Regions from separate parts of the Homo sapiens genome. Here all the other regions are reported to be linked to region 1. The links are microRNA targets in miRTarBase. Many come from high-throughput screens and were not tested one by one. Region 1 holds a microRNA gene; each other region holds the end of a gene's coding sequence.
What was found. The annotated mature microRNA hsa-miR-3922-3p reads UCUGGCCUUGACUUGACUCUUU and lies in region 1 at 1,739-1,760, shown strand. An mRNA with a match to its seed (bases 2 to 7 or 8) in the 3' UTR can be bound and repressed. Matches are read on the target gene's strand: a 7mer-m8 pairs with bases 2 to 8, a 7mer-A1 pairs with bases 2 to 7 and ends in A, and an 8mer does both.

Region 2: miRTarBase lists SLC38A5 as a target of hsa-miR-3922-3p. Seed matches in the 3' UTR shown: 7mer-m8 at 719-725.
Region 3: the mRNA of RAB30 is a reported target of hsa-miR-3922-3p. Seed matches in the 3' UTR shown: 7mer-m8 at 564-570, 7mer-A1 at 2,697-2,703, 8mer at 3,062-3,069 and 7mer-A1 at 3,775-3,781.

What each region holds. Positions count from the first base shown.
Region 1 is chr12:104,589,956-104,594,198 of GRCh38, forward strand. MIR3922 (microRNA 3922) reads left to right here and starts at 1,678; the gene lies at 1,678-1,761. All of the region lies in intron 1 of CHST11 (carbohydrate sulfotransferase 11), which reads left to right.
Region 2 is chrX:48,455,137-48,459,379 of GRCh38, reverse strand. It overlaps SLC38A5 (solute carrier family 38 member 5), which reads left to right. Exons shown (of 17, transcript NM_033518.4): 17 at 346-836. The coding sequence ends at 447. Among named protein-coding and RNA genes, the nearest start is that of SLC38A5, 13 kb to the left of the region's middle.
Region 3 is chr11:82,978,327-82,982,569 of GRCh38, reverse strand. It overlaps RAB30 (RAB30, member RAS oncogene family), which reads left to right. Exons shown (of 5, transcript NM_001286060.2): 5 at 155-4,243. The coding sequence ends at 405. Among named protein-coding and RNA genes, the nearest start is that of SNORA70E, 61 kb to the left of the region's middle.

The sequences.
Region 1 (4,243 bases):
CCAAGATGGCGCCACTGCACTCCAGCCTGGGCAACAAAGCGAGACTCTGTCTCAAAATTAAATAAATAAATAAATAAATAAATGAAGATGCCTCACCCTAGCTGGCCCGTCCCTTGGCTATTAGGTGCCGCATGACCCTTGTAAGTACCTACACCCAGGCCCCTGGCCTCGTTGGCCCCATCTGGCACAGTTTCTCCCCCTCCTCTTCTCCAGATGGCCTGCACGTGCGCTGTCTATGTGCGCACCTGTTCCTCATGTCTAGCTGATCCAGCATCCCCAGACTCTTCCAAGATACAAATCCCCTGGGGTGCTCATCAAGCTTGAAGCTTCCCAGGCCCCTTTGTAGGAGAATCTGATTCAGAAGGGCTGGGAATATATGTTTTTTAAATAAGTACCTCGGATGACTCTTATCAGGAAAGTTTAGAAGACCTTGGACTGGGGTGACTGTATTTCAAAACGGTTTAGTTTCCTGTCTTTTGGGAAAGGCACTTCCATTCATTCATTTATTCATTCAGCCCTGAATTTAGGCCCCTTTTAGGAACCGAGGATATTGTGATAGACAAGACAGTCCAAGTCCTTTTGCTCATGAAACTTAGGGTCTCGTGGTGGCAACAGACAACAGCCAATAAAGCATTTAAGATAAAAAGACAGGAGAGAATCAATGCCTTGAAGAAGCATATGGCAGGCGGGGCGCAGTGGCTCATGCCTGTAATCCCAGCACTTTGGGAGACTGAGGCGGGCAGATCACTTGAAGCCAGGAGTTCAAGACCAGCCTGGCCAACATGGTGAAACCCTGTGTACTTAAAAATGCCAAAAATTAGCTGGACATGGTGGCACACGCCTGTAATCCCAGCTACTTGGGAGGCTGAGGCACAAGAATTGCTCGAACATGGGAGGTGGGGGTTGCAGTGAGCCAATATCGCACCACTTTACTCCAGCCTGGGTGAGAGAACGAGACCCTGTCTTAAAAAAAAAAAAGAATATAGCAAAGAATGGGAGGAACAGGAGAGAGAGGAAGTGAGGCCATGGGAGACAGTGTGTCCAGGGAAGCTCTCTCTGGGGACCTGATGATGCGGTCAGAGGGCAGAGTAAAGAAGAGAACAGTTGTTGGTGTTGGGAGAGGGACTCCAGGCTGACAGAGCAGTGAGTGCAAAGGCCCTGAGGCTCATGCTTGGTTTTTTGGAGAAAGAGCAAGATGACCAGTATGGTGGAGGAGGGGCAGAGGCAGGCGGGGCTATATCATGGGGGGCCTCTGGGCCGTGGAAAGACTTTGGATTTTGTTCTAAGATGGTGGCAGGTCTTTGGAGCAGGAAGGCTGTTATGATCTGATTTACGTTTCTAGAAGATTATTCTGGCCGCTGGTAGAGAATAGAGTAGGGAGGCCAGGGTGGCAGCAGGGATACCAGTTAAGAGGTTTTTGTCATAGCCCAAGGGGAAGGCGATGATGGCTTGTACCAGGGCGGTGAGGACAGAGACATGCTGATGGGTGGGGCATAGCAGACAGAAAAGGGAATTTAAGAAAATTCCTCACTGTTTGGTCACAGCTAGGGGCATGATGGTGGCATCCACTGTGATGGTGAACATTGTGGGAGGGAAATTTTAGCTGTGGAAGCCATGAGTTCTCTTTATCAATGTTTAACATATTCCATTCATAAGCACCCTCAAATTGAACTTAAAGGAAGAGTCAAGTCAAGGCCAGAGGTCCCACAGCAGGGCTGGAAAGCACACCTGTGGGACTTCTGGCCTTGACTTGACTCTTTCCAGATATCTGAGTCAGACGTTTTCAAAGCATGCACCATGACCCACGGGTGTGTTGTAAAATGGATTTAATGAGTTGTGACTAGTAGTTCATAAAAGAACAATAGAAAATGTTAGTTTGTCACACATAGTAAGGATAGTACTTTTAAAATAAAACTTGTCTCGGTTTTCTATATATATTTGTATGTAAATCACATGCAAAAAGAGAAAGGGATGAGGCCAGGAATCAGGAGATCTTCATTTTAGCTGCAACTCGGCCTATAGCCAGCAGTGTGTCCTTGGACAGATCACCTTCTATCCTGCACGTCCATTTCTTTACCTGCAAAATGGGGTTAGGGATGAGGTGGTTTAATCTTTTAATACCTGGCACCTCCTCCCCTCCCCTCCCCTCTTCTCCCCTCCTCTCCCCTCCCATCTCCTCTCCTCCCTTCCCCTTCTCTCCCTTACTCTCCCTTTCTCTCTTCTCCCTTCCCGTCTCTCATGCTCTCAGTGGGTGGGCAGCATACCCCACTGGCCAGGAGGATTATGTTTGAGGTTTGTGTCTTAATCTGTTCAGGGTGCTACAACAAAATACCATAAACTGGGTGGCTTATACACAACAGAAATTTATTCCTCACAGTTCTGGAGGCTGGGAAGTCCAAGACCAAAGCATTGGCAGATTTGGTGTCTGGTGAGGCCCTGCTTTCTGGTTCATAGACAGTCCCTTCTTGCTATGTCCTCACATGGTGGAGGGGGTAAGTGGTCTTTTTTGGGACGTCTTTTATAAGGGCACTAATTCCATTTAAGAGGGCTCTACCCCCATGACCAAATCACCTTCCAAAGTCCCCACCCTCTAAAATGATTATCTTGGGGGTTAATATTTTAACATGAATTTTAGTGGGGACACAAACATCCAGATTATAGCACTTTGCGTCCTGCCATTTCTCTTGCTCAGTCAGAATCAGTTTTGAGGATACTTTCCCTAACCACGTAGATTCATTCTCTTTCCTTCTGTGAAAGTCATTGGACTAGGTGGTCTCTAAAGGGCCCTTTTTGTCTTAGATGTGCCTGATGGTGCACTAACCTGTCAGGTTGACAACTGATTTGTACTTGGACAGGGATCTTATACTTTCGGAAGTAGGCATGCTGTCTGGGCATGTTTCTGCAGATGGGCCAGAATTCTCTAAAAGAGGGAATGGGTTGGCTGCTGGGGCCATTGGTTTGGGGGACTCCATTTGGTGACCCAGTTCTTCTCCTGGCCGGTAAATATTTTAATGTATACACTATATTCTTCAAAGCTGAGTATTAGAGTCCCCACTGGAAGGCTTCCATGTCAGTAAATCTCACGGCTCTTGGATGAAGCTGCATCTTTTCCCAAGCTATACCAAGCACATTCACGTAATTCTTAGATTTACTCCCTTGACCTTCATATGCCAAGTTTAATTCACTTTAGTTCTACAACCACCTTCTACAGGCTGGGCGTCGGGAGGGGCTCTTGCTTTGAGGAGCTGGAGTAGGAGAGGCCAACACGGGAATGGCTATGATATAGGTTCAGATTATTCTCAAATCAAATCAACCCCAAATCCCTCAGTATTCTTCAGTGAATTTGCTTATAGGGTCTCCAGTAAGGAGAGAGAGATTTGGGAATGGTTTTAATGGCTCTGAATTGTCCCTGTGGGAGGGACTGGGTGAGGGAAGGAATGGGAAGTTGGAAAACTTAAGTTTGATAATGGCATGAATGACAGGTTAGGCTGAACCCTATTTTCACCTCACTGTTTCGAGGCTCCTGAAAAGTCAGTTGTGAATACAAGCGTGCTGAATGTTTTGTAAAGCTCCTGAAGGCCTGATTGGTGGGAGGATATCGGGTCAACATTTGGGACTGCCTATTTGCTTGGTCTCTATCAGTCCCAAACATCTGTAAGCTGTGACATGTCCCATTTCCCAGGAGTGGGGGAAAGCATGCTGGTTTGTGGGTTTGAATCCCAACTCTGACATTCACTAGCTATGTCGCTGGGTCAGTCCTTAACTTCTTTGAGCCTCAGCTTCCTTGTCTGTAAAATGGGTGTGATACGACCTACCTCCTGGCTGGTGGTAAGTAATAGAGAGAGACAGTAATGAAGGCTCATGTTTACTGGGTCTTGGAGAGTTCATTTAAGGCACATCACAGCACCACGACAGCATATCATATTAATTTTTCTTTTTGATTTAACTACTTTGGCTAAGGTAATTAAACCACTTTGAGGAAGCATTGGCACTTTGAGAAGAATTTTTCAGGAGAGAACATGCTAACTCCTCTTCTTTGTTCATTTGCTATTAGTAAGTCATTTGGTCTGATACCCTTTAGTAGAATATCTTTGGTTAAGTCCTCAGATCACTTGATCTGTTGTTTTTATTCATTTGACACAAACATACCGAGTACCTGCTATGCACGGAGCACTTAGGCAGTGGACAGGTAGAGAGGGGCAAACCTGGCAGGTGAGGGGCTTGGCCAGGCCCAGGTGTGATC
Region 2 (4,243 bases), not on the chromosome of region 1:
GGGCAGAGGAGACAGAGCACCAGCAGGGTCCAGGAAGACAGGGAGCACTCAAACAGAGGCTGGCATAGAGGGAGCATTCTCCAGACAGATGGAAAGAGCACTATTGGGAAGAGAGCTGGAAGCACTTTGAAGAAGGAGGATGGAGGAACGTATTCTGTCATGGGTCCTGGGAAGGTGGAAGGACTCGCAGAAAGGGGCTGGCTGTAAGGAAGGAGAGGGCATACAGAGGAGGGTCAGGAATGGATGGAGCACTCTCTGAAGGAGGTGGAAGACTTGAGGAACATTCTCAGAAGGCAACTGGGTGAGGAGTCCCAACCAGCCCCATCTTGTCTCTCTGGCCCACAGGCCCTGTGCTTTGGAGTCCTGGGAGTCCTCTTCATGGCCGTCAGTCTAGGCTTTATGTTTGCCAACTGGGCCACAGGCCAGAGCCGCATGTCTGGACACTGATCAGGCCCTGCTGGCCCAGGTCCCTGTGCGCATGCACATGGAGGGGTCAGGGCCGCTCCCTAGGGTCCCTCCTGCCCAACATGTGGAGGTGGCTGGTTCCCATGAACGTGGTTGTCAGAGGCGGGGGACAGCAGAGGCTGCAGACTGGCCCACTTCCCTCCTCCCCAGGGATGCCAAGCTTGGATCATGGCCCTAATCCCAACCCCAACCCCATGGGAGGAGGAGGAGGAGGAAGAAGAGGAGGAGGAGGAGGAGGAGGAGGAGGAGGAGGAGGCCAGGTCCTGGTGGAGCCTTTGCCCAGCCCAGTCCTCTCTGCCTCCTCCTGGCTGAAGCTGTTTGTCAGGATTACCCTCGGGCTAAAGAGGAAAAATAAAGATGTTGAGCTACCACTCTGGACTCAGCCTTCTGATCTTTCTCTTAGTCTTGCTGGGGGAGCCTGCCGGAGTCCAGGCTGGAGCAAACTGAAGCCCTGCGAGTGGGACTGTGCCTGATCATGCATTCATTCACTTCACTCTTTCAGTAACTTGCTACTCAACTTAATATTTCACCCACTTGGCCAGGAGCAGTGACTCACGCCTGTAATCCCAGCACTTTGGGAGGTTGAGGCCGGCGGATCACTTGAAATCACAAGTTTGAGACCAGCCTGGCCACCATGGCAAAACCCCGTCTCTACTAAAAAATACTAAAATTAACTGGGTGTGGTGGTGCACGCTATAGTCCCAGCTACTTGGGAGGCTAAGGCGGGAGAATCGCTTGAACCCAGGAGGCGGAGGTTGCAGTGAGCCGAGATTGTGCCACTGTACTCCAGCCTGGGCGACAGAGTGAGACTCCATCTCACACACAGAAAAAGACTTCACTCATTCACTCGGTAAACATCTCCTGAAAGCCTACTGGGTGCCAGGCACTATTCTAGGTGCTGGGGATATAGCAGTGAACCAAGCAGACAATAGTGCCCTGGAGTTGATGTTCTGACACACGAGTGGGCAAATCCATCCTGCTGCCTATTTTGGTATGGCCCTTGAACTAAGACTGGCTTTCATATTTCTAAATGATTGAAAAAAGGTGGATCCAGCATGGTGGCTTATGCCTGTAATCACCAGCACTTTGGGAGTCTGAGGCAGGAGGATCATTTGAGAGCAGCCTGGGCAACACGGCAAGACCCCATCTCTACAAAAAATATTAAAAGAAATAGCCGGGTGTGATAGTGCAAGCCTATAGTCCCAGCTACTTGGGAGACTGAGGTGGGAGGATCGCTTCAGCCCGGGAGATTGAGGGTGCAGTGAGCTATGATCACGCCACTGCACTCTAGCCTGAGTGACAGAGTGAGACCCTGTCTCAAAAAGAAAAGGGGCTGGGTGTGGTGGCTCATGCCTGTAATCCTAGCACTTTGGGAGGCCGACGCGGGCAGATCACCTGAGGTAAGGAGTTCTAGACCAGCCTGGCCAACGTGGTGAAACCCCGTTTCTACTAAAAATACAAAAATCAGCCAGGCATGGTGGCACGCGCCTGTAATCCCAGCTACTCAGGAGGCTGAGGCAGGAGAATCGCTTGAACTTGGGAGTCAGAGGTTGCAGTGAGCCAAGATCTCACCACTGCACTCCAGCCTCTGTCTCAAAAAAAAGAAAAGAAAATGAAAAAATATTATTAAAAGAAATAATATTCTGTGACACTTGGAAATTATGTGAAATTCAAATTTCAGTGTCTAAATCATTTACATATCAATTTCAGTGTCTAAATTATTTACATATCATTTACAGTGTCTTCTTCATTTACATATTGTTTGTGGCTTTCTCGTGCAGAGCTGAGGATTTGCAACAGAGACCATATGGCCTGCAAAGCCTGAGCTATTAACTCTCTGGCCCTTTTCAGAAAATGTTAGCTGACCTCTGACCTAACAAAGAGAATAAAAGAGAAATCATTCCTCATAAAGATGGTGCAATGAAGAAAATGAGCGATGTGAGAGTGGTGTGGGGAGGTGGTGGGTGAGGAGGCATTCAGCGAGACTTCACTAAGGAGGGGGCAATGAATTTGGTCCTAGGTTGGCTGAAAGGAGCAAGCCTCATGGTTATTTTGGCAAAGGGTGTTCCAGGCAGAGGGAGCAACAGGTGCAAGGGCCCCGAGGTAGGAACGAGCATGGCTGGTCCAAGCAAGAGCAAGGAGAAGCTAGCATGAGTATGTGAGTGCCATTTTCACCACAGCCTTGTCAACAGCCTGAGCAATGCAACAGATTTTTGTCAACCTCATAGAAAAAATGGTATTGCCATTACACTTCACATACGTGTGTGTGTGTGTGTGTGTGTGTGTGTGTGTGTATTTCTAATTCTTTAATTTTTAATTTTTAACTGTTTTTGAGACAGGGTCTTGCTCTGTCATCCAGGCTGGAGTGCAGTGGTGCCATCACGGCTCACTGAAGCTTTAGCCTCCCAGGCTCAAGCTATCCTCCTGCCTCAGCCTTCTGAGTAGCTGGGACTACAGGCATGCGCCACTATGCCTGGATAATTTTTAAAATTTTCAGTAGAAATGAGATCTCTCTATGTTGCCTAGGCTGGTCTCAAACTCTTGGGCTCAAGTGATCCTCCCACCTTGGCCTCCCAAAGTGCTCGGATTACAGGCATGAGCCGTATTTATGAAATAAGGTTTTTTTTTTTTTTTTTTGGCAGGGTTTCACTGTCATCCAGCCTGGAGTACAGTAGTGAGATCACAGCTCACTGCAACCTCAACTTCCCGGGTTCAAGTGATTCTCTTACCTCAGCCTCCCAAGTAGCTGGGACCACAGGCATATGCCACCACACCCGGCTTATTTTATTTTATTTTATTTTATTTTATTTTATTTTTTAGATGAAGTCTTGCTCTTGTCTCCCAGGCTGGAGTGCAATGGCACGATCTCGGATCAGTGCAACCTCTGTTCCCCGGGTTCAAGTGATTCTCTTGCCTCAGCCTCCCGAGTAGCTGGGACTACAGATGTGTGCCACCACACCTGGCTAATTTTTTGTATTTTTAGTAGAAACGGGGTTTCACCATGTTAGTCAGGATGGTCTCGATCTCCCGACCTCGTGATCCACCTCCCGACCTCGTGATCCGCCTGCCTCAGCCTCCCAAAGTGCTAGGATTACAGGTGTGAGCCACTGCGCCCGGCCTTTTTTGTATTTTTTTGTAGAGACGGGGTCTCACCATGTTGCCCAAGCTGGTCTCGAATTCCTGGGCTCAAGTGATCCACCCATCTCGGCCTCCCAAATTGCTGAGATTATAGGCATGAAGCACCGCACCCAGCCTGAAGGAAGCTTTTAGATGTTTGAGAGACATTTGCTTATCCTCCCAGATAATTTTTACGCATTTATAAGCTACTACACATATATATTATTTCCCTGCTTCTATTTACAAATAGGGCAGTTGTCTGTAGTTGATTAATACTATATGCTCCTTGTTTCACTGTTCTTTATCCCTTACTGCCACTAAACTTAAGCTCAACAAGCCATTCTTTTTGAGAATAACGGTAGCCTGAAATTCCAGCACCTGGCCTTCAAACTGCAAGTCTTGGCTGGGCACGATGACTCATGCTTGTAATCCCAGCACTTTGGGAGGCCAAGGCAAGAGGATGACTTGAGGCCAGGAATTTGAGACCAACCTGGGCAACATAATGAGATCCTGTCCCTAAGTTTTTTTTTTAATTAGCTGGGCATGGTGGTGTGCACCTGCAGTCTCAGCTACTCAGGGAGGCTGGGGTGGGAGAATTGCTTGAACTAAGGAGTTCAAGGCTGCAGTGAGCTGGATTGGACCATTGCACTCCAGCCTGGGC
Region 3 (4,243 bases), not on the chromosome of region 1:
TTAAAGTAAACATTTCAGTAATCACAGTCACATTTGTTTTGTTTTACTCGCCCATCTGTCTGGCTTGACTTCAGATATGGAGTTGAATTTTGATGCTTCTCAGCCTGCAAAAAGTCAAATGCTGATTCTTTATTTGATTTTACTACTGTTATAGGCAACAAGATTGACCTGGCTGAAAGGAGAGAGGTTTCCCAGCAGCGAGCTGAAGAATTCTCAGAAGCTCAGGACATGTATTATCTGGAGACCTCAGCCAAGGAATCTGATAATGTGGAGAAACTCTTCCTTGACTTAGCATGCCGACTCATCAGTGAAGCCAGACAGAACACACTTGTGAACAATGTATCCTCACCCTTACCTGGAGAAGGGAAAAGCATCAGCTATTTGACTTGTTGTAATTTCAACTAAAGGCTGAGGCACGGAGAAGAAAAGGAATCAGCAACTGCCCTGATGGGCCATGAGATGCTGGGGAGATCTGGCGATGACTGTGGCTCCCGCTCTCTGACCTTCTGACTCCTGTGGGCTCCTGAGCTTACAAAGCATGGCAGGCCAAGGGCCTCGACCACAGGCCAGCATTAGCAGAACATATAATGGTTTCACCCTTTTCCAGTCTGGAGTTGGAGCAAGGAGAAAATTGCACTAGGCACTCCATGATCTGCAGAGCATGTTGCTTTTGTTTTTTTAAAAAGCAAGTAAAAGCGCATTCCTAAACAGAGTCCGGGGGGAAATGTACTGTAGGGATCCCTCCTGCACATCAGTGGGTGCATGTGGGAACTCTTCTTTAGGGCTTCGGTGGTAATCATCTGGGGGCCCTGGTTTTCTTGTCTACCAGATAAACCAAAACTGGGAAGGCCAAGTACAGTCTCTGTGGTGCGTATTGACGACCCCATGGAGATTTTGAAAAGTGTTATTTCTCTTGTCCACAGGCACTTTCAAGAACTTTGGGATGTAAAAATGAAATGAAACCTTTACCCATGACCAACAGTAACAATCATTGTTTTAATAATATATACAAGCTCCATAACTCCTTTTGGTGCTAATGATTCCGCTATTTCACAGACCAAACGTTTTAGTACATTAATGTCCTTAAATGTGTTATATAGAAATAAAAAAATGGGGGAAGTCCATGAATCAGCACTCTTTCTCAAAGTCTCATTACTACCTTTTTAAAGGTGGATTTTTGGGAAAAGAGAATACTTTTCCTTTTATGTTCCCCTCTGAATCTCTACCACTTTCTTGTCTCTCCAGCCCTTTATGTAAATGAAAACGTTTGCAAAATGAAAAAAATAAACAAATGGTTGATGACATTCTAATATAAAAACTTAGCTCTAACACATTTTGAGTAGTATGAGGAAACAGACCAGATATGACCAAAATACTGTGGATTAATGGACTGTAGTGCAGGGCTCCTAGCAGAGCACAGTCCTTGATAGTAGGTCACATCTTTTACTTCCTGGTACTCTCCATCTTGGACAGACCAAGGCTTAGGATTTTGTAGATTTTTTAGTATGATAAGTGAGAATAGCAACAGATGAAAAGTCTCACGACCCATTTTTATATCTTCGATGATAACCTTAGAAAAATTCTGCTCGTGGAAGCAGATTGAACTGTCATTTATCCCCTCCTTCTTGTAATAATGTTACCTTCAGACGCTTAACCATATGTTCTTTCTTTTTTCTTTCTCTTTTCCTCTCTATTTTTCTGGTCTCTCCTTTTCTTCTTCCCTCCCTCCCTCCCTCCTTCCCTCCCATCCTTATATGCCTGTGTTACTGCAAATCTCCAATTCAAATGGAGGTGTATATGCCTTTACTTAGCCAATTTAAAAACAGGACTCAAAATGGGAGATGTGCTGCTGAATATGTGTTTCTTTTTCTTCAGTGCCATACTTTGATAGCTTCCAATTTGTTCACTGATATAAATGCAAATTGGGAAAATAATTAAACCTGTATGCTGTTGATGCTGTCAGATGTTTCTGTAGCTTGCTGCTTAGCATAACTGAGGGATGAGTAATGGAATAAGGATATGATGTGTAATTCCACTGTTGCTGTAGATGGTGACAATCTCAGTTCTGATATGTTGATGTTTGAAAGCTATTTAATTGTAAAGAAATTAGTCATGTAGAGACATGATGTGGATAAAGCATTTCTGGCATTTCTCTAGCAGGTTCTAGATTGACCAGTGTCTTGCACATGAGATTATGCATATTTTTTAAGGGGCTGATACTTTTGGTTGGCCTCACTGTGTTTTTCCTGATCCTGTGGGAAAGAGAAAGGCATCCCAGAAGTTTGACTTGTTTTTCTTTTAGAATCTGTCTCTGCAGGAAAGAAAAGTCATTTTAATAAAAACCAAAATAATTTATAATAATTGTTGCCTTTCCCTCCCCATCCTCTCCACTAAGCCAGCAACTAAATGTATTCAGAAAACAAGTTAATCAAGGAGGGCAGAAGAATTTTTTTTAAACTGTAAGAAAATGTTCCTAAGTTTAGATTTATTACCTGTCATTTAGGGCAAAAATCCAGTGTCCCCAGCACATGATGACCCAACTTTGTCTCACAGTTGCAAGTGTGTTGAAAATAAAGTTGCTTTGTGAACTTAGAGGAAATGGCTGTGTTAGATTGGACTGATTTAGTTGCAAAATAATACCTTTTAGGGTCACACTTGTATTATTCCCTAGGGTTTAGCCTTCTCTATATACCCTTGGCCAGACTCAGAAGGGGATTAAAAAGCTCTGGTCTTGGCCTCTATCTTCCTTGTTGCTCCTCCCAGCCTTTCCATAACTTACCCATCCACAGCCCATCAGCAGGAACACATGAGAATGTGGGACTTTGTTTCTTTTTTTCTTAGTTGTATGAATTCCAGATTAGGCCTTATGGATACTTGTCTACTAATATATCTGAAGTTTGAAAACAATCCCTGACAATATTGTAGGTGCAATAAATATTAGTCAAATAAACATTTAAGTGCCAAGGTGGGGTGGTAGTGGTTGGGGGAGCTTTTTTTGATTAAACAGAAATTCCTTCAAGTAGAACTTGAGAAAGGACACTAAATACAGTCATCTTAACCCAGGCCAGAACCTAAATTTATTGGTTTGCCTAACAGTCTTATTGTCATGGCAATATTTGCTAAGATGAGCCTTCTTTAGATAAAAATGAACTCTCATTTAGTGGTGGATGAAAAAAGAGAAATTGCTTTATCATATAGTTTAATTTGGCTCGGTCTACTAAGACCACCAGGGTTGATGTATTCCTCCATTTTTGGTGTGATCTTTTTCTTCATTCAATAAAGTTATTAAATATATGGCAAAACTTTTTTCAGTTTCCAGTGAAAATGCATGATACTCATGTCATGGAGTCAGGCTTGGGAAAATCTATGAAATAATAGTTTGCTGATAATGATATTTTCTTATGGCTTTGTATAGACTACATCCTCAAAGGATTTTGTGCTTCTTTGCCCATAGAAGGCTTTTTCTCCCTTTGTGTGCTTTTATTAAATCTGTTGAATTATATTAATATTTTTTGAATTTACAGGGCCAATTATCTTTTTTGATGGATTACTTAGATTAGGCCATGGGTTCTTCCTGGCCTTTCTTTTTCTCGGTCTTTTAATCATTTCACGTTTTTATCTCTCCCTGAGTAAAGTGGCAAGAAAACTAAAAATGAAAGTTAAATGGGTTGATTTGACAATGTGTCAAGTTCTGATTTAGAGTTTATAAGGAAGGTAGAAACGATTGGCCAAAATAAGATATTTGGATGAGGATTATTTAAGCCGTTTAGATTTGGCCAGAGACGCCAGATTTAGCAAAGGACTGGGTTCTTATCTTCTTTCATTCATGAATATATGCCTTGGGAGGACACTGGTGATTCCCACAGAATTAGGCCAATGATTTGCCACATTACCCTTTAAGCTAGCCCATAATTCCACCAGATCCCACACCAAGTTTCAGTTCATGACTCATACTGAATAAACGTCAGTTGTAAATGATGTTTGAATTGGTCTTCCTACTAAAGTGAAACATCTTCTTTTAAGCCAAGCCACATGAATGAAATAGCACAATCAGAAAAAAATCTTTTTTTTTTTTTTTGCATATCAAACCAATGGCCTTCTCCACTAAGCCAGCAACTAAAGGTATTCAGAAAACAAGTTAATCAAGGTGGGCAGAACTTTTTGAACTGTGAGGAAATGTTCCTAAGTTTAGATTTATTACCTGTCATTTAGGGCAAAAATCTAATGTCTTTTTTATTTCTTA